Linked DNA regions of Homo sapiens: regions 2, 3 and 4 are each linked to region 1. The links come from fine-mapping of genetic effects on gene expression. A gene starts in region 1. Each other region holds a variant in brackets. All regions are shown on one strand. Distances are from middle to middle.

The links. PIP is the estimated chance that this variant, and not a neighbour inherited with it, causes the effect.
Region 2: its variant is fine-mapped to the expression of NUAK1 in cerebellum (GTEx, PIP above 0.99).
Region 3: its variant is fine-mapped to the expression of NUAK1 in whole blood (TOPMed, PIP above 0.99).
Region 4: its variant is fine-mapped to the expression of NUAK1 in whole blood (TOPMed, PIP above 0.99).

Annotation. Positions count from the first base shown.
Region 1 is chr12:106,136,149-106,142,213 of GRCh38, reverse strand. NUAK1 (NUAK family kinase 1) reads left to right here and starts at 3,260. Exons shown (of 7, transcript NM_014840.3): 1 at 3,260-3,800. The coding sequence starts at 3,561. RefSeq lists enhancers at 1,319-1,938, 4,330-4,831.
Region 2 is chr12:106,045,957-106,052,021 of GRCh38, reverse strand. No RefSeq gene overlaps it. Among named protein-coding and RNA genes, the nearest start is that of NUAK1, 90 kb to the left of the region's middle. The variant G/A (reference allele first, on the strand shown) is at 2,666.
Region 3 is chr12:106,069,378-106,075,442 of GRCh38, reverse strand. NUAK1 (NUAK family kinase 1) reads left to right here. Exons shown (of 7, transcript NM_014840.3): 5 at 2,600-2,719; 6 at 4,537-4,669. Among named protein-coding and RNA genes, the nearest start is that of NUAK1, 67 kb to the left of the region's middle. The variant A/C (reference allele first, on the strand shown) is at 2,810.
Region 4 is chr12:106,108,742-106,114,806 of GRCh38, reverse strand. All of the region lies in intron 1 of NUAK1 (NUAK family kinase 1), which reads left to right. Among named protein-coding and RNA genes, the nearest start is that of NUAK1, 27 kb to the left of the region's middle. RefSeq lists an enhancer at 5,696-6,065. The variant G/T (reference allele first, on the strand shown) is at 2,747.

The sequences.
Region 1 (6,065 bases):
TCCACCACAAAAGAAGTGAAAATGGCCGGCCCTTGCCTTAAGTGATGACATTACCTTGTGAAAGTCCTTTTCCTGGCTCTTCCTGGCTCATCCTGGCTCAAAAAGCTCCCCCACTGAGCACCTCACGACCCCCACCCCTGCCCGCCAGAGAACAACCCCCCTTTCTTTGACTGTAATTTTCCTTTACCTACCCAAATCTTATAAAACGGCCCCACCCCTATCTCCCTTTGCTGACTCTCTTTTTGGACTCAGCCCGCCTGCACCCAGGTGATTAAAAGCTTTATTGCTCACACAAAGCCTGTTTGGTGGTCTCTTCACACAGACGCACATGAAAGTTACCATCGCCACTTTGCAGATTAGAGAACTGAGGCATAGAGGGGGAAAACAATTATCCAAGATGATCATAAGAGGTGGAACAGGGATTTGAACCTAGTCACTCTGCCTCTAGATCTGAAGCTCTTAATCAAGGAGCCTGGGCTCTTGTTGGAGAAAATGCTTTATCGATGTGAAAACATTCACACACAATGCCTGATAGCATTGTGCTGAAGTGTGGTTCCAATTATAAACGTGGTAGGAATTCAGTCTGGAGAGGAACTCCCAGTGCCTGGGCATGACTGTGTGCTAGGCATTGTACTGGGTGTTTTTCATCCTTCCCATTTAAGGAGACGGAGCATGGCATATATGAAAGGAGAAGGGGGAGCTTTGGAACTGGACAGGTAGGGTTTAAATCCTGGTCCTGCCATTTACAAACTGTGTAACCTCTGGGAAATTACTTAACCTTTCTGATACGGTTTCTTCAATTGAAAATAGGGATTGTAAACAGCTACTTTACAGAGGAGGGTTTACTGTCATAAAACAGTACCAGCCTATGGTAGATGATGCTGTTGATTCAATAGATACTGATGAAGTCCCACATATCTGGGAGTAACACTATCAGCCAGAATAAGCCAGGTTATGCTGCTTTAACAAATCCCACTGACTTAACATAAATAAAGTTTAATATTTGCTGACACTACTTTTCCAATGCAGATTGGCTGGGATTTTCTGCCATCTTTACACAGAGACTCAGGCTGGCTTGGGGAGGCTCCAACTTTGTACCACCATGATTGTCAAGATAGGAAAAAGAAGACATGGGGATTTGCTCACTGGCTCCTAAAGGTTCCAAGTGAAAGCAACACAATCACTTCTGCTCTCATTCCATTGGCCTAAGCAAGTCCGATGGTCTCATCTAACTTCAAGAGGATGGGGTAGTGGATTTCTACCACATCGCAGGGGAGGGGAAGAAGTAGAAAATATTTTAAAATACTACTGTAGACACAATGTGTTTATCTCTACAATAGATCTGCTAAATCCATATCTTAAGAGAAAACCGAAGCTCTGAGAGGTTATGTCATTTGACCAAGGCCACACAGCCAATCCTCTGGGAAGCCAGGACTCAACCTGCATGCCACTCATCCTGACTGTGGGATCTATAGGCACAACGTCCACAAACTGTATAGAAGCAGAACAGTTTCAGGATGGGGGTGGGTGGCAGGGAGGCCCTGCAAATGCGGTGGACAGAATAGGAATTGAATAGGCATGATGCGCCTTTGTGTCTGTGTTCTGTCATTGCTCCTGGGGAAGGGAAGAAGGGGCAGGGAAGTTTGTGTGAAATATCAGTAGAAGGAAAGTTTGGACAGGTAAGAATATCACGCGTCAGAGTACAGCAGAGACACGTGTGGAGGATGAGGGCAGTGTTTCAGGCCATTACTCTGGCAGCAGTGAGGAGGCTCCCGGGGAGGGTTGGGGAGAGCGGGCTGTTGCTGGAGTCCGGGGTAAGGTGACCAGGGGTAGACAGGAATGAAGGCGGCGGGAATGTAGAGGAAGGGCTGCACCTGAGAGCTGCAGAGGAGGCCCCAGTGAGGTCCACTGGTGGAAAAGAACCGCCATGCGATCTGCAGAACACCAGACCTTCTTCAGCCTTCACTCTTCCCACCCTAGTCTGGTACATTGCACCACTTGTTAAAAAAAAAAATTTCCCTAAGACCTCTTTTTCTCTAGCCTTCTTCCTTATTTTTCATGGTCTCTTCTTAGAACGGCGGCAGCCACGCCGCGGTGGGAGGCCCTTCCTGCCTGACCCTTACCGTGCGGGGTACCGTTCCTGTCACCATCGCCAGGATCTGGCCCTTTCAGTGAAAGGAAATCTCCCAAGGCCTAAGGAGGCAAGAGGCCTGCAAATCGCCTCCTGCTCAGCAAACGGGTTGCTCAGCAGGCCCGGGGTCCTGGTCCACCCCAGGTCCCTGGTTTGCCCACCTCCGATGGCGGCCTTCGCTGGCAGGGTGGGCGCCTCTGGGGAGCCAGCTCCGTCCCGGCGCCTTTAGAGCCCCATCTCTTCCACGTCCCTGGCCTTCCTCCCCTTCCAGGCGGCTGTCCCCGCCGGGGTCCAGATGGTGTCGGAGGGCCGGCGGTTCGACGGCGGGCCCGGGGTTCAGCCTCCCGGCCTCCCTCCGTCCCTGACTCTCCTTTCTTCGGAGAGGGCGCGGGGGCCGGGGCCAAAGCGCCGCTCTTGGGGTTCTCCTGGACTCGGAGTTGCCCCAGGCGGGCGCAGCTCTGCCCCGCGGGGTGCCAGCCTCGGGCGGGCAAGGTCCGTGAGTCACCGCCTGTAACCGAACACCAGGCCTCCCTGCCCCCTCCCCCAGCTCCGGCCGCCAGGCTGCGGCGACACCTACAAGAAAATGAAGGGGCGCCCAGGCCCGCGGCGGCCCCGGCCGTATCGCGAGCAGGTCCCGGCGGCCCCCGGCTCGCGGCGCTCTTTCTTCCCCGGCCCCGGGGCTCGGCCAGCCGCAACCGCCGCCCCGGCGCCAGCAGGAATCCAGGCCGAGCGACCGGCCCCGGAGCCCGAGGCGGCGGAGGGCCCGCGGTAGCTGCGACTGGCGAGCCCGAGAGCGCCCGGGGAGGGGGCGCCCGGCTTGGAATTTCCCGGTCCCTTCCGGCCCAGCGAGGACAAAGCACTCCTGGCCGCCGCCGCCGCCGCCGCCGTGGCCTACGCCGCGCCGCACAAAGGGCGAGTCGCGACACGCTCCCATCCCCCTCCCAGCTCACGGCGGCCCCGGCCCCGGGTGGCTGCAGGGAGGTGGGGGAAGCCCTGGCTGCACCGCCCCTCGCTCCCCCTCCCCTGGGGCCGCGCGAGCGCCGCCCCCGCCCCGTCTGCGCGTCCTCCCGGGGAGGGGTTGGGGGGCGCGGCGCCCCACATAACACTCCCCCTCCTGCGCTGCGAGCCACCCTCTCCCCTCCCTCCTGCAAACACCACCGCCTCCCCTGCCACCGCCGCCACCTCGCCCGACGCTCCACAGCTCGCCGCGGCCGGGGGGCGGTGCGCGGACCGTGCGCGCCGCGGGCGCCAGATGTGCAGTCCCCGCCGCCGCCAGTGACCGAGCCGCAGTCCGAGCGGTATCGGGCCGCCTCCCTGATGCTGCGGGGGCGACCTTGAGCGTACAGCGGCTTCCCTCGGTGGGGACCCCGACATCCCAGCGCTGTGCCCGGTCTTGCCCTCTGTAGCCCGGCTCGCCCCGCGCTTGGACATGGAAGGGGCCGCCGCGCCTGTGGCGGGGGACCGCCCCGACTTGGGGCTGGGGGCGCCGGGCTCTCCCCGAGAGGCGGTGGCGGGGGCGACTGCAGCCCTGGAGCCCAGGAAGCCGCACGGGGTGAAGCGGCATCACCACAAGCACAACTTGAAGCACCGCTACGAGCTGCAGGAGACCCTGGGCAAAGGCACCTACGGCAAAGTCAAGCGGGCCACCGAGAGGTTTTCTGGCCGAGTGGTGAGTGGGGCAATCCTGGAGGGTGCGGGGGGCGCTGGGTGGACGCGGCCGGGGACTGAGGGCGTGCGAGGCGGGGGTCTGTGCGCCCTGGGGCTCTCTTGACAGAGAGGGGGCTCATTGGGAAGCCCCGAGACAGACTCCTCACTCTTTCTCCAGCACCCCGTGACTCAGGCGTGTCTCTGTCCTGAAACACTTGTTACATCCTGTCTGCACATATTTTATTTTATTTTTTGGTTTGTTTTTAAAAATTTAATCCTAGCAGCAAAGGAATGTTTTAGATTTGCAAACACTTTGCAGCGTTGGGACGGCCGGGGTCTCTCTCCCTCGCAGGCACTCATTTAGACCATGCCCCGAAACGTCTTATTTCCACAACTCTCCAAAGAACCACATTCCCAGCTAGGAGCTAGCCCCTCAAGTCCGGTGTTTTGTAGGTGTCCCTACCCCCTTCCACCCATCTGCCCGCAGCTCCTTGCTCTGCATCCTCCCACTCAGACTCTGCATCGCCCTGATACTGCTGTGACTGCAAGGGAGGGCGACTCTTGCCTGTTTTTGAGACAAGGTTAGGGAGCAAAAATAAAGACTACTGCAAGCCTGAGGATTCTAACAGTTTGCATCATGGCTTTGGGAGGACCGAAATGTCCAGGGCATGGGTAGCTACAGAGATAGCTGTGCTTAGTTGCAGCAGGCTCAGTTGTGTTTCAGCTCCTGGTTGCAGGGCTACCAAACCGCTGAAGGGGTCTGGCCCCGCTGCTCTTGTGACAGCTGACACCCTGCCAGGGTCCTGGCACCATTTGCACAGCTCCAAGGAGTGCTTTGAGTGCCTTGGGGTCTGTCTGCCTTGTCCCAGCCTTGGTTTGTTGTTATTTTCACTTCTGCAGAACAGGCCCTTGAAATCCACACTGCTTGTGGCTAGAGAGTTGGGTTCAAAGTGACTGACTGTTGCAGAAAGATTTTGTGTGGTGTGTGGCAGAAAATTAACATGGTTCTTTGATTTGAAGCAGATCAGATGTATTCTAATCGATTTAGGGCCAAAGTCAGAAACTGATTATGGGACTCCTTGTGTGCACTTTTGGGGGTGTTTTGGAGGCTCAGGTTTGCTTATAAACAACAAATGACTGCAGGGAAAAAGGAAAATGAGCTGTCAAATAAAATAGCAGCTTAGTATTGACATGTTTCTTTTGCATTTCGGCAGGAACAGTTCTGTGAAAAAAACATGGGGGTGCCAGTCAGCAAAGTTCAGTCCCCAAATTCTCAAATATCTGGATACCCGGATAACGCCCTCCCAACCCATTTCTCAGATTTGATGTTTGGGTCTATATAACTTCGTCCCATAACGTTATTTTAAAAAAAAATCTGTTATCAATTAATTGGAAATTTGAGATGGCGTACATTTCTTTTTAAAGCTGGCTCTGTAATAAATTCTACAGCAAGCAAGTAGTTGAGAATTCACTCTGGGCAGGTGCCATTTTCGTAGGATGAAATTGTTAAAGGGGAGGGTTGTAAGGGTGGCCTCTGATGAAGGCAATTTCAGGTTTGTGGAAGAAGAGGCTGGGAAACGTGCACTTCATTCATGCTTTTCTTCTGAGGTGATATTCCCCAGGCTGGATGTTGAATAAGCAAAAACTAAGCTTAGATCCCTGCTCATGTTGTCTTAATAGCTGCTGAAGAATCGCACTGGGAAGGTGGGAAGCAGAATAATGAAAAACAGACGCAGTTCGAGCTGCAGGTTGAGAATGTGAGGCTATGAGGGGTTGTTGAAGTGGTAAGGGTGTGTCTAGGGTCTGTGAAGGGACCCCAAAGTCTAAATGCTGGGGCACTACCTCAGACCTTTCTAACGAACGAACCCTTGTCTTATGGCAGACGCCTTTCTGAGCGTCAGTGGGACTTCCTGTCAGGCGTTCTTGAGCTGTCTGATCCACAGACTAGGTTAGAGTGAAAGGGATTTGCATCAGTAGGCAGGAGTCCGCCTTTCTCTTTTGGGGGATGTCTTTCTCTGTATTTGCAGAAACTGAACATTCCGTCAGGATTTAGTCAAGCGGCCACGAGGGGGCGCCCTGAGAACGAGAGAGGCTTCTTTACCAGCCGCAAATCTGAAGTCCCGCTGTGTTATTGTTCAGCCCTAGTTCATTTTCCCATTGTGCTATTAATTTCAGCTAAATCTCTTGTTTTACCCCAAAATTATGTAAAGATTTTAAATCTGGCAGCAGACCCACGCCCAGAAACTGACAGTCTCTAAAATGCTTCGTTTATTCATGGGGCTGCTTT
Region 2 (6,065 bases), 90 kb after region 1:
GCCTCAGTTAATGGTTTTTCTTTTCCTCATGATGTAACAAGAGAATTTATCCTGTGAGTAATACTGGAATTCATCCTTATGGCCATTTTCCTCTGTTAGTGCCCCAGGGACTATTTGAAACCACTTCTTTGTGTGTGTATGTGAATATATATGTGAAACAGAGAGACTCGGGGGAGAGGGAGAAAGAGATGGGAGTGAGAGGGCAGAGAGAGGAGAAAGTATTAATCTCACAGAACTCTTAGTTTCCATTCTGATAGCATTTATTGACTATATAGTCTGTGCCCCTAATGGTCCTATAGTGGAAATCTATATGGTCCTATATGGAAATCTGCTTTGTGTCAGTTCTGTATCACTTCTTTTGGGATTCTGTTTCTCCCAAGGTAATGTGATTCAGTGGGACCTCACCTGGCTGTAATTACCTTTCACACTACAGGGACAAGGTCTTCACTCACTCTGACTAGTTCAATTTTTTTTTTCTTCTAGACCTAATAATTGGTTCAGTGTTCATTCTAAAGCCCAAACACGACCAATCAATGCCATTTGGGTGATCAAGTATGGATGTTGACGGGGAGGGATTTGTGATGATTGTTGTCATCATCTTCTCTTTCTTTCTTTTTTTTTTTTCTGGAATCACCATGAGGATGATGTAAACCTAGAGATACTACTGGTAGCCATTTTTATCACCAAGTGATAACAGAGATGGCCTGAGAATGAAGCCAAGAAAGAGCACCACAGAACTAAGAGAGTAAGTGAAATGCGTATTGTAGCATCATTTGATCTTCTGAGCCAGGTTGCCCCCAAAGCAAACACTAACCTGAGACTTCACAGTGATGAGAGTTATTCTCCTTTTTTGGGCTGAATTAGTTTGATTTGGGTTCTTGTCACTTGCAACAGAAGAACAGCTTCTGGATACCTGAACATGTGGAAGTTCCTGGAGGGTGGTGCACCCAGGAACTTGCACATGTTCCAAGCAAGAGAAAGCATGGAAACTCTGCACCCCTTCCCCTCATTCCTCACCCTAGTATCTCTTCATCTGTATCCTTTGCAATATCCTTTATAATAAACCAGTCAACTTAAGTTATTTCCCTGAGTTCTGGCTGCCTTAACAAATTAATTAAACCCAAAACAGGGGTCGTGGGAACCCCAACTTGAAGCCACTTGGTCAGAACTTCTAGAAGTCCAGACTTGTGACTGGTGTCTTGGTGCAGGAGAGAAAGGGAGTCTTGGGGACTGACCCTATCTCCAGGTAGATAGTGTTGGAATTGAATTGGAGGATGCCCAACTGGTGTCTGCTGCTTGGTGTGTGGGGACGAATCTCCACATCTTTGTTACAAAAGTCTTCTGTGTTGATGATTGTTGTGGTGGTGTGAAAGCAGAAGAAAAGCAAAGTTTGAGAGAGTTTTTCCCTACACAGATAGTAATGACAGTGTGAGGAAGGGAGCAGTTGCTGGACTCTAGAAGGAGAGAGCTATCAAGAGGGCTTCCTTGACAGGAGCTGTCACCAGGGAAAGCAGCCAGCCAGAGGTGAACTTGCAGGGAGGGAGCCTGGGAAATGACTGCTGAACCTCTGCTGAAGTCAGAGGGTGGATATCCCTTCCTGTAGTTGACACAGGTCAGCTTCCAAGGCTCAGAGCAGGTGGAGAATGCACCTGAAGGGGCATGATAGGGTTTGGCTGTATCTCCACCCAAATCTCATCTTGAATTGTAGCTCCCATAGTTCTCACATGTCTGGGAGGAACTTGGTGGAAGGTAATTGAATAATGGGGACAGGTTTTCCCCATGATGTTCTGGTGATAGTGAATAAGTCTCACGAGAGCTGAGCTGATGGTTTTATAAAGGGGAGTTCCCCTGCATACGCTCTCTTCTTGCCTGCCACCATGTGAGATGAGACCTTACTCCTCCTTGCCTTCTGCCATGATTGTGAGACCTCTCCGGCCATATGGAACTGTGAGTCAATTAAACCTCCTTCCTTTATAAATTAAACAGTCATGGGTATGTCCTTATTAGCAGCATGAGAACAGACTAATACAGGGCAAATAAGAGATCCTCAGTGGAGGTGCATGCTGTCACTGTCCCTATATTATAGATGAGGAAATCAGGGCTCAGTGAGGCCATGGTGATAACGGGCCAAAGATTGTATCAATCAGTAGCAAAGACAGATGGCAACTCAGTTCCCCGACCATAAAGCTGTGCTCAGCGTAGTCATCCTGGCCCTGGGGGTTTTGGCTGGACCTGTTTGCCTCTGAAAACAGACCCACAGGCCTGTGTGCCAGGCTGGAGGATGGGGACAGACATCGATTGGGCTTCTCCTTCTTGCCAGGCACTGTGCTAGGCATTTAACCCACAACAGGCCTATTGAGATAGGTGTTGCTGATTCCATTCTATATGTGAACAATCAGCCTCAGAGACGCTAAGTAACTTGCTCAAGGGTACACAGCTGATGAAGATACTGACCTAGGTTCCAGAGGTCAGATTCCAGAATCCTTGGTCTTTCCATTATATCCTGGGGCAGAGACCTAAGGAGCAGAAAGGGGAAAGGAGAGGGAGAGAGGGAGAGGCTGCTGTGCGAGTCATTTCGAGATGGTGGGCAGGAACGGGGGAGAATTCAGGTGGCAGCATCTTTCTTGGGCCCAGGAAGCATAAGGCATGTAGGCAGGAATCCCAG[G/A]GTGCCATCTGGAGTTCCAGAACATCCCTAAGCAGCCTTTATATCTGCAGGCCTGTGCTGGGCCGCAGACTCACATGAAAGCATAAAAGCCTTCTGCAGCAGATGGGAATTTGAAATCACGTGTTGTGAGCAGCCAGAGCCGGGAGCTGTGACTCCTGTGCGGCGCTGTCAGTATGTCTGAGACACTGCTTCTCGTCCTTCCTCCCCTGCCTGTCCTTTCCACTCTGAGTTTCTCCTCCCTCTCTCTCCTTTGCTTTCACTATTAAAATTTTATTTTATATATTTTTTATTTTATTTTAGCTTGAGTTTTCTCAAGTTTCCTCTGCCTCCTCCCTGGACATGGAGACACATCTTCACTTTGTTCTTCAGGCCTCTCAAATTCAACGTGTTCAAGTAAAAATCCCTTTCTTCTCACTTAGCAAATCTGCCTCTCCTCGTTGTTGGTTTTGCATTTTGCCTTCTGGCACGGGATGCCTGGATGGAAGGCTGGGAAGAGCCAGCTTTGCTTCCTGCCTCCCCTCTCCTTTCCCTCCCTCCATCTCTAGTTGGTTTCCTCATCACTCTCGGTGCCCCTTCTGCTTTCTCTGCCTGGTTTCCGCTCTCTTCATCTTTCACTGAAGCTCTTTAGATATTTTTGGAGCCGAGTCCCTGACTGCTTGGTCTCTTCTCTGCTTCCTCCAGCACATTGCCACAGATATCACTTGAAAACATTGTCCAGGTGATACCAACAGTTTTAGCAAGAAGAGAAAATGGAGGCATTTTCCAGGTGACTTTGGGAAGGAGAGTGTAGTGGGCAGGCTCACAGCCCCCACAAGACTCCAGCCCTAATTCTGGGGGCATTGCATGTTAGTTACTTCCATGGCAAAAGGGACTTTGCAGAGGAAATCTAGGTTAGCAATGAGTTGACTTAAGATAGGGACATTATCCTGGATTAGCCAGGTAGGCTCAGTGTAATCACACAAGCCCTTAATTGCAGAAGGGGAATGCAGAAGGGAAAGTCAGAGAGATTTTAAGAATGGGAAGGATTCAAAGCTCTGTTGCTGGCTTGAAGATGGAGGGGGTCCCAGGTCAAGGAAATGGGAACCTCAGTCCTACAGCTGGAAGGAGCTGAATTCTTTCAGCAACCCGAGTGAGCTTGGAAGGGGCTTCAGCCTAGAGCCTCTAGAAGAGAATGCAGCTCTGCAGGCACCTTTTCAGCCTTGTTAGATCCTGAGCAGAGTTCAGCCATGCCATGCCAGACATCTGAGCTACAGAACCCTGATATAATGAATGGTTTTTGTTTGTAAGCCCCTAAATTTGTGGTACTTTGTTATGGCAGCCCCAATACAAACTAATACAAATAGAAAACTAACACACACAAAAAAGCCAGAAAGATAAATCAGAAACCAATAATAATGATTATGTTTATGGTTATGAGGGAACAGAAATAGGAAGGAGACATCACTGACACACAGGGAAATTAGCATACACTGAACATTTGCTGCGGACCAGACACCATGCCAAGTCCTTTGACTGCTATACCAGACCGGGATCTGAGTTGTAAGGAATAGAAAGGGTCTTTGGCTAATCTAAGCCAGAAAGAAAATTTATGAAAGAATATAAGGCATCTCCCAGAAACTCCAAGAAGGCTGGAAAACAAGGCTTGGGAAATAGTTGGGAATATAGAGGAAGCAAGGTGGCCAGAACTCAGCCAAAATTGGACCATAGAGCCAGGGTGTTGGGTGGACCACAGCTACCCTGGCTGTCCCCTGGCATTGTGGCGGCTTTGCTACCACAGCCAGCTCTGGCCTTTGGCCATTGGGCATTGCTAGCGGTACCACTGCTCTAGAAAATGGGATGGTTCTGGTGAATACAGTATTGCCTAAATGGATCCTGCCTTGTCCCTGCGTCTGTGGATCATTACTTTGAGATTTAAAACTCTGAGCAGGTGTGTCTGGCTGGGTCACAGGCCCAGAAGGTTCAACTGCTGTGCAGCCAAAAAATGACTCACAGAAAATGGCAAATCATCCTGTACCATCTCATTTAATCCACATAACAACCCAGCAGGGAACTACTATTATCCCCACTTAATAGATAAGGAAACCAAGGCTGCCAGGAAGGTGAAGCTCCTTTCCCAAGATCCTGAGCTTGTACAGGGCAGAGCTCAAACTTGAACTCAGGTCACCTACTTTATATGCACATCCTGTGGCCTCTTCTTGCAGTGACAGTCAAGTTTCAGATCCTTTCTGAGGAAAGAAGAGGCAGGTGGATTCTATCTGGTGCGTGGTTCAGAGAACTCTGGGGAGACAGGTTGAATGGGAGCAGTAGCTGGCCAAACAGCTCTGACCCGTTTGCTTTTGAGGCTTGGGCATGGCAGAACTTTAATTATTTTTCCCTATTTAGTGAAATATGCTTTCAGACATCTGTTCTGAGTTGGTCCCCTTTTGTTAGTATATATTGTGTAGCATGGCCTACTCTCTCTCAACTTGAAATTTAGACAAGGGATGTTGAGGCTCTGCTGATGAGACCACCACTGGGGAACCTCATCTTCTGTCTTGCCTCTCCTTGCCCCCTTTACTGTCCTTCTCCACCAAGCATTGCAAAGGAAATGAGATGGAATCCCACCCACCTGGGACTCTGCCTGGGTACAATGGACGCTAATCATAGAGACCAGTCTGTGGGTTAGGGGCTCCACCCAGTGCACTCAGTACTCTGAGCCCTATCTGGCATCCTTAACACAGCTCTCTTCTCCTGCCCCATTATCCTCCCAGCTCTGAGCCAGGCCAGTGACAGAAAGAACAAAAAGAAGGCCTCGTTTGTGATCTATTTCCTGATTTGAGATATCTGGAGCAGGTCCAGTCATAGGCCACTGATTAAAAGTGGTTTAGTTACTGTCACTGGTGTGAGGACCAGGCTAAATGGAAACAAGCCAAGCTCAGGCTCCACAGAGAGGAAACCCCAATTCAAAAGTTCCCTGGGATGACCTCCAATAAAAACCATCTGTGAAGGTGACTTATGAGCACTGACAAGAATTGGTTCATTTAGGCGTTATTTATGATAAATATGCAATATATACGTATACTCAATATAGATATACATTCAATATTCAAATATAGAAAATAAATATTCGATACATAAATATTCACTAGTTTTGCACACATGTAGGCCTATGCAGTAGAGTTTAGGAATTAAGCATGTGAACTCTTGATCACCTACTCTGTGCTAGGCATCTGACACACATGATCTCACTTAGTGTTCACATCACTCTCCGAGGAGGATATCGTTGTGAATATCACTGATATTTTACAGGTAGCAAAATGGAAAATAATAGCAGAGATAATGTAAGGGAAGTTGTTTTCATACATTATAAAGTACAGTGGGATGGTTGACTACAATTACTGCTAATTATGATTAATCATCA
Region 3 (6,065 bases), 67 kb after region 1:
TCATAACCAGTGGCCATTTCCCCTCTTATCAATAGTTGATATAAGTTCCGTATGGCATTAAATCTTAGAGCCGAAGCCTAAGTTTGAATGGCTCAAGATCTGAGAACGCTCTCTCTCTCTCTCTGTGTGTGTGTGTGTGTGTGTGTGTGTGTGTGTTGATTAATACTGCTTTCCCATCGAAGTGCCAAGAACACAGGCTAATCTAGATTTCTATTAATCTTGTGTCAGTGGCAATGACAGTTTTACTGGGAGAGGCTGATAAACATCAGTCTGTGAGGATAGGAGTGGGCCATAACATAAACACACTTCTCCAGAACGGCTACAGAGCAAATGAGGCTGCCCAGACTTGGAATGAAAACTCCTGGTGTGAGTGTGTGCATGTGCAGCGGGTGCCTCTCACACGCACGTGTATTTGGAAGCTCATATGGTGCCCCAGGCACTGCCAGGCGGGAAGAGAATGCATTTTCCTGTGCGTAGCCATTCCATGCCTCTTCTGATTGACAGGGCACACTTCATAAAGCTTCCAACCAACTTCCTGCAAGCAAGTCAGGGGCCTTGATAAGAAAGTGGAATTCAGGGCAATGAAGTGCAATCTGAGCCCGGAGAATGCATTTTCTGAGGCTGGTTGTACACCAGCTGCTTTCAATGACATTCCATTCATTCAGGGATGACTTTTACAAAATAGGCTGCTTCTAGGGGCTGTGACCACCACAGAGCCTCGGTGGTATTCAGGCTGGGCTCTCTCTGGGCATGTGAATCATGCAGCTCATTTCCAAGCCTCAAATGGAAATCAGCTTGGAGAATGATGGAAACCTACAGGGGCTCAGCTTGCAAGGCTGGCTTAGAGTGGAGTGAAATATACAGGTGACCCAGGGACAGGGTGGCACTGTGGTTTGAAGCTTTAGAGACACGGGGGTTTATATTGCTGCATATTAGTTACTCATCTCCTTAAATGAGTAACCTCAAACTCCTTAAACCTCAATTTCCTCATCTGTTAAATGAGTTTTTCAAAAAATGTGTGGTAAAGTGGACATAACATAAAACTGACTATTTTAACCTTTTTTAGGCATGAAAGGCATTCACATTGCTGTGTAAACCAGGTTTTTGTTAAGATTAGATTAAATAAAGTGTTTGGAGCAGTACCTGATAATTGGAAGTTGTTCAAAAAGTGGCAACTAAGTTTATTATTATTATTATTATTTTGCATTATATATTAATTATCTTGTGCTTTTCAAAATATAATGCCTGTACCAGTGACAAGTGTTTCTTGGGTGTGGGCAGGTGCTAAGCAGTGGATGATACAAAGATAAGGGGAGGATGTGGAACCTGCCAACTGCCTCAGGAAACTCAGAGTCTGGTAGGGAAAGCAAATATATATATGTATATGTATGTATATATGTGTATATGTGTATATTTGTACATATGTGTACATATACATATACATATATATGTAAAAGTGCTGTCATAAATGATAACACATAAAACACTTCAAGAAACCAAAGGAGAAGAGAATGACTCCAAGGTGTGTGGAGTACAATGAAAACAAGGCTAGATGAAACATTTGCATCAAACTTGAAGGTTATGAACCACTGTTACACTCACGGTGTCATCTTATTTTTTTTTTTGAGATTGAATCTCGCTTTGTCGCCCAGGCTGGAGTGCAGTGGTGTGATTTTGGCTCACTGCAATCTCCGCCTCTCAGGTTTAAGTGATTCTCATGCCTCAGCCTCCCGAGTAGCTGAGATTACAGGCATGCACCACCACGCCCGGCTAATTTTTGTATTTTTAGTAGAGACGGGGTTTTTCCATGTTGGCCAGGCTGGTCTCGAATTCTTGACCTCAAGTGATCCGCCTGGCCAAGGTCTCATCTCGATTGATTTCTTTTTCTTATTATTCTCATGATGATCCTGTGAGCTAGAACAGGGAAGGGATCATGGATTCCCATTTTCTGGTGGGTAAACTGAGGCTCAAGGTCATTAAGTGACAGATAGGAGCAGAGTTGGGACTGAAATATGATGACTCAAAACCCAATGCTGTGAGTCAATTAGTCCATTTCATCTTGAGTCACAAGACAGGCAAAATACAGTTCTGATCAGGGTGTGAGTGGATACAGAGGTGGTATCACCAGTTGTGTAGGTCAGGGTTTTTCCGCAGTGTGATATGCACACCACCGCAGATGCAGCATAATTGGGTAGACCACAGAGGGAGAATTCTTAAATTAATAGTTACACACTTTAATGTTCATCAGAAACATCAAGCCAGTGATTTTGTGAATGTTATTTCTCAAAGCAAGTCTAAATTAAAGTTTAAATAGAGCATCCATTTAAAGAGTAATTTCTAAGTAAGTTGCAGAGCTTGTAGTCTGCAGATTTGGTAGAACTTGTGATGGATGCCAAGGACTGCAGCTAGGAAACACTGACCTGCTTGGGCTGAGTGGTCCTTTATGAAGACTCAGGGCTGGAGAGAAAATGGCGATCCAGCCAGCAGACCCACCCAGGTGCCCTTCATCCACTCTGTGTGCTGTGTGGTGTGAACTGATCCAACACAGACATAATCTGGAATGCTAACAAGTCTCCCTGGGTCTTGCTTCTCTTTGTAGATTGCTGACTTTGGGCTTTCCAACCTGTACCAGAAGGATAAGTTCTTACAAACGTTTTGTGGGAGTCCACTCTATGCATCTCCTGAGATTGTCAATGGGAGACCTTACCGAGGGCCAGAGGTGAGCAGCTTTCCCAATGTGTATGGGGCAGGGGAGGGGAGGGAGAAGAGGGAGGAAGGGCAAAAACTGGATTCGAGAAATGCTTAAAAA[A/C]ACAGAGCCTAAAAAAGCCAGCAAGGAAAACGTTTCCTTATACGATTATAAAAGCAGTTAATGTATACTCCTGGGAGGAAATTTGGGAAACCCAGAAAAGCCTAAAGGAGAAAATAAAGGTACCTGCCATCCCCCTAGAAAAGATAATCACTTAAAACTCTAGTGACTTTTAAACTTTTCCCAATGTAGATCTCTGCATTTCAAAAATAATTGAGATCAAGTTAATAAAAGGCAAGATATACATATGTATGTGACACACGTATGTATATCTTGCCCTTTACTATGAAAACTATCTTGTGGCAATTTCCAAATTCATTATTAAAAACATGATTTTAATGACATTTTATCAATGAATATACCAAAATTTATTTAGTAATGTCTAGATGTGAACATTTAGTTTTTTCCCTATTATATCAAAACAGACAAAACAAACAAACAAAAAATTGCCTCACTCTGGGGTAAATATCTTTTTTGTATATATTTTTGGCAGCATGCATATCTGACTAAGGAAATACATTTTAATGACATCTTCTAATTCATGAGAAATACATTTCCCTACATGCTAGCGCTTTCAAGGGCCACTGTAAGATATGGGTATATGGAAATTTTATTTTGAAAATGAGTGAGTTGTGAGTGATGATTCTCTTTTTGAAAGATGGTTCTCTTTTCAGAGTTCATCCACTCAGTATCCTTTAAATAGCAGCTGCTCAGTGTGTTGAAATGTTTTCTTTCAAATATTTATGTGTTTGAGAGTGTTTGGGGGCAGGGCTGAAGGGTAAAGAGAAGGATGCCAAGACCATCTATTAACTGCAATGAAGAGAAAGTCTTTCTAAAATAAGAATGTGAGGGAGGAGCATAGAACTCAATTTACAAACTTGTAGAAACTCGACACGAAATTTCTCATAGATAATGAATATTTTGGTCTTCGATGACCTGTTTTTGAGGTTCCAGGCTAGCAGTCTGTGATCTGGTCAGCAAACTCCTTTATTTGGCCACCTTAGTTTTTATTAAAAAAATTGAACAAACATGTAATAATTGGGAGATTTCATGTAAAAGTTTGGTTTCTGACTTCTCTTGTAAAACCAAAGAATCGAGCAGTGCTGGGCCCATGTTACTACATGGCAGCAATTAGCTAAGGAGAGGCTGTCTGCCTAAGACGGGTGAATGTACTGTACAGTTTGTCTCCATCCCCAACACTCTATGTCATAACCCCAATTCTTTCTTGCTTTGTGTATATCTGTTAAGATTTCAGTTTGTAATTCCTGATTCATTTGAAGAAAGTGCAGGAAGGAATTGATTCCTGGATTAGGAATGAAGAGCCCCGCATCCCAGTTTTACCTCCGTCACTGGGGCAGGGCCTCTGGAGAAACCATTTAGGTTCTTCGTGCCTCAGTATTCTCATCTTTTAAATGGGGCTGAAAATAGTCCTGGCTCTAACTGCTTCACAAAATTGTAGTGAGGATTAAAGAAGATAATCTGTTTAAGAAAGTTCTTTACTAGTTGGGACCACTGGCCTCTGTTCAGAATGGAAAGGTCAGGCTCTGTAGCAGGTCCCAGCTGCATTGCTGTCAGGTGTCAGGCTGCACTAGGAACCTATCTTCCAGGTGCTAAATTCAGTTCCTGGGGCTGCTGGGGGTGGCTGCTCACAGGCTATGATGCTAATGGTTTGGAAGGCATCTTGGGATCTGTTTCCCAGCTCTCCTATATGTGCTGTCTCTCTGCTCCAGGTGGACAGCTGGGCCCTGGGTGTGTTGCTTTACACTCTTGTTTATGGAACAATGCCCTTCGATGGTTTCGATCACAAAAACCTCATTCGGCAAATCAGCAGCGGAGAGTACCGGGAGCCAACACAGCCCTCAGGTGCGTGCCCTGTGGAGGGAGGGTCAGAGGTGGAGGGGAGAGAGATCTGCTTACCCAACTCTTATTTTCTGCTTTTGTTTTAGTATGTCTGTCTGGAGTCACCTGGTTTTCCTCTTTCTTCTTCCCAGAAGTGTCATCCTTGGCAAAACTGGCTTATTAGGCTGCTTTCCCCAAACCTTCCCAAAGGAAATTTTCAGAGCACACCTTCTAGGAGTCCTGTTTGCTTGCTTTGTGGATCTGGACAAGTCACTTAATCTCTTTGGATTCAGATTCTCCACCATAAATAAAAACGTTGGAAAAGATATTAGATGAGGTCTCTCCCAGTCTGAGTAGACATAGAAACCACTCACCTGAGAATGTAAATACTGTGAGGGTGGCCACTGCTCTGTCTCTCACTACTGTGCCACTGGCATGGGGCATGGCTCATGGGTTCTGTCTCATTATTGATTTCTGTGTAACAACTCTACCCCATCTGCCCCTACAAAACAAACTCAGTGGCTTACACAACCATGAAATCATCTCTTTCACCCCTGTGGGTTGGGAAGTGCTCTTATGGCCTTCCTCTCCTACAGTTGTAAGCAGATGGCAGTTGGGGCTGCTGCTGGGGCTGAATGGTGGACCTTCCTCAGTGCTCTCTGAGGTGCCACCCCACAGTGGCAGCTTGGGGTTCTAAGAAGGAGGAATAAAAAGTTGCCGAGCTTTCTTTCTTTTTTTAAAATTTTTCTTGAGAGAGTGTCTCGCTCTGTTGCCCAGGCTGGAGTGCCAGTGCCATGTCCATGCTTGTACCCAGATTGTGTCACATCTGCTGTGTTCTATTGGTCAAGACAACCACGGTCATGAGCTTCATCTCTTGATGGGGAATATCATGCCTGTATAGAGAGTGTGTACAGCTGGCCATCATTGGTCATTTTTGTTAACAAATGAAGTTAACATTGGCACTTCATTTATATACATACTATACACACGCATATATATATATGTATATCTGTATACCTACACATACACAGTTGATTCTCATTCATAGTAGTTATGTTCTACAAAGTTGCTACAAACACTGAATTTGTGAATATTGAACCATTGCTCTTAGGGGAAATAGAGGGTTAGGTTCCTGAGAGCCTCTGCTCACAATATTTTTGTTAACTGATTGATATATAACCTTGTTTTATGTGTGTCTCTGTTTAAAGACACCTTATTTAATCTATATTATTAATTCATTAACATCAAACTCAACAGCCAACAGCACTGTAACTCATGCCTAAACAAAACTGATCTAAGACACTTATCTTCTCCATAAGGCACATCACAGCCTTCTTGAGCTTAGGAACACTGAACAGTGCTTCAGCACTGTTTTAGGGAGGCATTTAAAAAGAGGAATCACCAATAAAAATTCCAAAAA
Region 4 (6,065 bases), 27 kb after region 1:
AGCCTCCCATGTAAATGTTGAATTTTTTTTGTGGCAGTTTCAGCCCTGCTGCTCACTGTGGCTTAGTATTTGATTAGGAAGGACCCCTTGCTCAGAGTGTTTATCCCTCCTGGAGTGGGAATCAGGACTCTCTTGTTGCAATTCCAGTGCTGCTGATAACTTCGTGAACTTGGGGCCTGTATGTACTTTAACCTCCCTGGGACTCAGTTTCCCCATCTGTAACATGAGGAGATTGGCATAGAGCATTCTAAGTCCTTACAGCTCTAACATCTACTCATGATAACAGTCCTCATTTTGGCTTCTGCCGTAGGTACTATTTGCCTTCTCTGCCTTCCATCATATACACAATCTGCCATGTTGCCACAGCAACCTTGTGAGGTTGGTACCATCATCATCCTCATTTGCAGGTGAGGAAACTGAGCCGGTGGCGTGATTATCCGAGTCCCTCTCCTTATAGGAGTCGCCTTGGCTGGGTTGCTGTGACTGATGACAAGCCCAAGGTGCAGATGCTGGATTTCTTAGCAGTACTGGCTCGGGTTCTTCTGGGTTTGGAGGTTGATAAATAAAAGTTGCACAACCTTAAGCTTATCCAAGCCTTGTTATAAACAGTGTCAGAGTGATCAGATGCTACCAGTTGAGGCTGTCCAAGTTGTAAGCAACCTCAGCCCTCTGGCCCAGCCCTTTCTCTCCCTTCCCAGGGCAATTGTAACCTGGAAGAAAAACAGTTGCACTTTAGAATTCTGATTTGGTGTTGCATTTGGCTTCAGAGACGTGAACGTCCAAAAATAAACAGCTGCTTGGCAACTCCAGTCTCAGCTAAATGGCCTGGCATTTTCAGTCTTTCTTTGAATCTGATATTGTCTGTGTTAGCGTCTCTTGTGTTACCAGAGGCTTTTTCGTGCTCCGGGTTATGTGTAGACTGTGAAGTAACCCATCCACACCCACATTCCCTGGCATCACTTCATCCACAGGCCCTCCTTGGGCTGGGACTAGGGAGATACCCATTGGAAGCAAACTTTCCATTTACCAGGGGTAAATTAATTCAAGTCACTGAGCCCCCTCAAGGAAGCCTGTGTTTAATTCCTCTGTGTATAAATGGAAGGTTCATTAATTTTCATCAGTCATCTAGTATGTAATATAACTGCTTCCTGTTTAAGCTACAGAACAATAGGTGTCGTCAGGGCCACATTTACCCTGCTTTAAGGTGACTGCTCTCAAACCTCAGAGTGCAGCAGAATCACCTGGGAGGCTGTAAAGAATGCTGATACCAGGTCTGCCCCCTACCCTGAACACTGCCACCTTCATTCACTAGCTCTGGGGTGGGCCCAGGAATCTGCATTTTAGCAATCAGTTTCCCCTTTCCCCCTAACCAGGGGATCGGAGGCAGGTGATCTGCTCACCACCCTTGGACAGATAGTGCTCTAGAGTCTCTGACTGTCCTTTTCAGGCGGGTTTGTGGCTCACTTTTGGCATGCCCACTCAGCACGAACTTTCCGGTGGCCTTTTTGCTATTTCTTTGGTTCTTGCCTGGTCAGCCACGGTTTGTATCTTATGTTTACAAACCTCAACAGGGAGTGTGAATCTGCCCACGGTTTCTTAGTCATTAATTCCACTTCCCTTGTGGCATCACCACTTGCAATGACATTCTTAGCTCAGTCTTTGAAGGGGAGAGGGGTGGGGGTGAGTCTTAGAGACCAAGGAATGACTGTCCCTGTAGATAAAAATGTCCCAGCCCTGAGGTCCTCCTGAGCTGGCCCAGGCCCAGTCAAGCACGAATCTGCTTTGTTTTTTATGTTCTGAAAATAGAATGCATTTTTTATGGCAGGAGAGAAATCAATATCATCACAGGAATCATCATCTCTTTTATGTAGAATTTTGAGAAATAGAGGTTTGAGAACCAAGTTACAGAGGATTAAATTTTCAGAACCTCTTACAACATTAAAGGGCTGATGAGGGCCAGTGAGGGGATGCCACTCTTTGAAGGAAAAGCTCCTAGCTACACATACCATGCTCCCTGGCTTCAGTGCCTCGCCTCAGAGCCTGTTGATACAACTCTTGGCTTCCAATCCATTTCTTTCTGAAATACATTCATGTAGGACATGAACCAACAGGCTAAAGAGGAAGGGAAGAAGAGGCCCATGGGCCCCCAGGCAGAGCTGGCTTGGTTCCCATGGGGCCCGTTGCATCACAGCAACTTGCTGGGGTGTTGTTCTGAGTTGGCCAGGCCCCTCCATAAAGAGCCCGGGGTCATTTAATTAATTAGGGGCTTTGTTTGCAAGATGGGTGGCATCACCGTGGTGACTGTCCTCGGCCAGAGGCTTTTTGAGTGAAAGCCACATGGTGATCCTGGGAGCTTTGGACCGGTGTGGCCTCGGTGGGGCTGTGCCTTGCCCCACACTCTGTGCATCTCCCAGGCAAGAGCAGGAGCACTTTACAGCCTCCAGCCGGGCTTGGCTGCCTGCTCCTGCTGCAGGCGGCCTCTGGGCTCCTAGGTAAGGAGAGATCCCCTGAGCTGCCTCTGACTTCGTGCCCTGCAGCTCCCGTGGAACGTGCCTGGGTATGAGATCACACCTTGTGAATGGCAGGGAAGTTGCCAGCTCGTGTTGCTGGGATTAGGATGCAAACTTGTTCTCACTAAGTGATGCTAATGCCATATTTATGACTGTGTTTCTTCCCTGCTGCTCAGCCCTCCAGTCCCTCCTTTTGGGACCTCACATATGACCCTGTAAAACTTCATCTGCTTGGA[G/T]GGGGGTCCATCTCACTAGGCTTTAGGGACCCTTTCGGATCCTACAGGAGATTCTGTTCCCTGTGATGTTTTCTATTCATCCCAACTTTATTCATAGCCTTAAAAATCAGCAGCCTCTGGGCTCGAATTCTAGCTCCACTTTTTTTTTTTTTTTTTTTACAGGCTATGTAACTTTGGGAAATATTTATCTTTCCTGGCCTCAATGTTCTCATCTGTAAAATAGGATTGTAGGTAGGCTTAAATGAGATAAGGTCCACTGGCACATGATTAACACCTAAGAAATATTAATTATTGCTATTATTAAGAATATTGCCACTGATTTAAAAATGTTGAGGGTCAAAGACGAAGCACTAAGACCTGGCTACTCCAAGTGTGGTCCCTGGGGCTGGCATCACCTGGGACCTTGCTGGAAATGCAGAATCCCAGGCTGGATACCCAGACCTATGGATTCAGAATCTGCACTTTTTCAAGATGCATGGGTGACTCCTATTTGAGAGGCACTTCAAGAATACTCCTTGAAGTCCAGCTTATATCAATGAATGAGCATGCAGGGAGATGGTTGCAAAAGGAGGAGGGCAGGGATTCTCTTGGTTAGAGCCTCGACGACATACAACCTGCCCAGACTCTCTGCCACGCCCCCAAGGCTGGTCCTACACTACACAGGCGTCCTCTCCATAAGACACCAGGACACCCTGGGGCTGGCCGGATATTAATTTTAACCTGCTTTTGCCACTGTGCAAATGTGGGGAGGGGAGGATATGTGTGGGGGTGGAGAGGAGCCAAGAGACCTATGATATGATTTGCTGTGGGCTCATTACCTCTTAAGTGTGGTTTATAATCACTGCCATTCAGTGAATACTGTGTGCTGGGGCCTTTACTTACCTAGTTTCCACTCCTCACAACAACCCCAAGAAACAGGATTTTGTAACCCCATTTTACAGGTGAGGAAACCGAGACCTGGGAAGTTTGGGCTTGCCTGAGGTCACCCAGCCGGTGACAGTCTGAGCATTTACTCTTCTACTCTGCATCCCCCAGCCCTTCCTAGGTCACCAAGCTCTGAACACCCACAGCAGCCAATGTGGGAGAGGATGCCCAGCAGGCCACAGAGCAGGTGGTTTTTGGTGATTATTCAAAAAAGGAAAAACCTCCAACCCTCAAGAGGAGGCTGTGCCTGTTGCATGTAACAGAATTGGCTGGGCTGAGTTTGCCTCTGAAACAGGCAGGCACTGCAGGGCGGGATTCACAGGTTCTCCACCAAACCTGCTGCTGCAGAAGGTTTAAACATTAAACCATAAGGTGGCCTTATTTAAAAGCAGACCATTTTATAAGGCACATGGTACTGTCTAGACTTGGGAACATTTATGAATGTGGCTGTACTGTGAGTCGGGCTCAAACACCTGAGTTCCCTCCTCCTCTCAGGCTCTCTGACTTGTACAGGAACAAATGGGATTTTTAGGGGTGGAGGGTGTGTGATTTCAGACATTTGGTAATCTCTTCCTGCTGGGCCCCTTCCTTACCTCTGTGTTTCTTTGTAGATGTGAGAATTGAGGAAAACTGGAGAGGAGGTTTCCTCCGCAATGCCGGGCATGTCTGTGCATTTCTTTGGTAGCCCTGGCCATGAGGGTAATTATGTAATTACTGGTGTGAGTTTTGCTTATTGCCCGTACCCTCCCCACCCCACCTCCCACCTTGAGGGCTGGAGCAGTCGCGCTGGCTCCCTTTTGTGTAGCCGGTACTTGGTAGGTTTTCAAAAAGAACAAGTGGATGAACAGTCAAATTTCATAAAGGCTGAAGTGTGAATATCTTGAGGCTGAGTTTTGATTTTAAGTAGGAACATATTTGTGCCCTGTTCAGCTGAATGGTGAAAGGAGACAGTGTGGGAGCGGGTGGAGAAATGCTCCTGGGATTGCTTTTTGGGTTCAAGATGTTCATCCTCCTGTCTGGTTTGGACTCAGGAGCCCTGCTGATAATGGTGTGTAACCAGCTGATCTGATCTTCCTGATTTCAGATGAGGTTGCAATGTAAAGACCCAGGATGGAGATGCTCTTGTCCTTTATGTACTATGAAAACATGTCCCTAAGACCTCCACTCACTGTCTCTTGAGGAGCCAGGAGGAATTCAAGTTTGCTCTGAAAAAGAAAGGAAGAAGGGAAGGTTCTACTTACAGAACACTCACTCTGGGTTAAAAAAGACTGACACTTATTTAGCAGTTACCCCCTGGCCCAGGTGTATTCTTGAGCACCTGATGTGTAATCCTTACCAGGACCTATGAGGCAGGTACTATTATTTCTCTACTAGATGAATGAGAAAACTGGTGCACAGAGAGGTTATGTAACCTGCCCAGGGTCACACAGCTAGAGGGTGATTTTAGCCTGGACTTAAAGCCATGTTCCTAAGCATTATGCAATACTGTCTGTGCACTGGCTCAGTGTATCCTTCAACTTCCTGAAGCAGATACTTTTGCAGGAGCTGCGTTAGAGATTTTCTTTTTTTTTTTTTTTTTTTCCTTAACAACCCTTAAACAATATGACAATCATTCTTAGCTCCCTGGGTCCTACAAAAACAGGCTGAATATGTGGCTAATAAAGTAGTTGGTGTGAAATGCTCCAGAGAAGATAAAATGGGAAGGGTATAGAGAGAGGGAGGTGGCCATAAGTGTGGCCTTATCAGCTAGAGGGATCAGGAAGGATCTCCCTGAGAGGGTGGTGTGAAGCTGAGGCTTAAATGAGAAGGGTGCAAAGATCCCTGGCATGTAAAGCATTCAGCACGGTGTCTGCTCCATATATTAAGTGGCTAATGAATACTGGCCATTACTATTAGTAGTAGTAGTGCTTTTTTGTTTTGTCATTAACCGGCTGTCTGAACCTTGGATGGGTCCGCCACCACTCTGGGAGTAGAGCTGAATGTCTTCCCTCCAGCCTTGGCAGGTGCACAGATGAGAGTGATTTCTAGCATTTGTCTCCTCCTGACTTCCTGTCACCCCTTTGAAACAGGGGAGCAGAATGCACCCTCTTTTACATTTTCAGTGGAAAAATCATTGTAGGAAAAGGGAAAATTTTTGTGGAGAGACAGCCACTATGCTTATTAACATTTATGGAGCCCTTTTAGTTTCCTCAGTGCTGAGCAAGGCTTGATGAGAATGTGGGCACTTTCCTTTTCACACCCAGCTGAAAGCATCCCCTGGCGATTGCACCATGGGACCCTCCGCCTCGCTGGACTGTTAGGGGGAATCAGCAAGTGGGCCTATTTTTTTACCCTTTAGAATGTTGCTACCCTCCTCTGACCCTGCATGGTGAAGAATTTATGCCTATTGTAACTT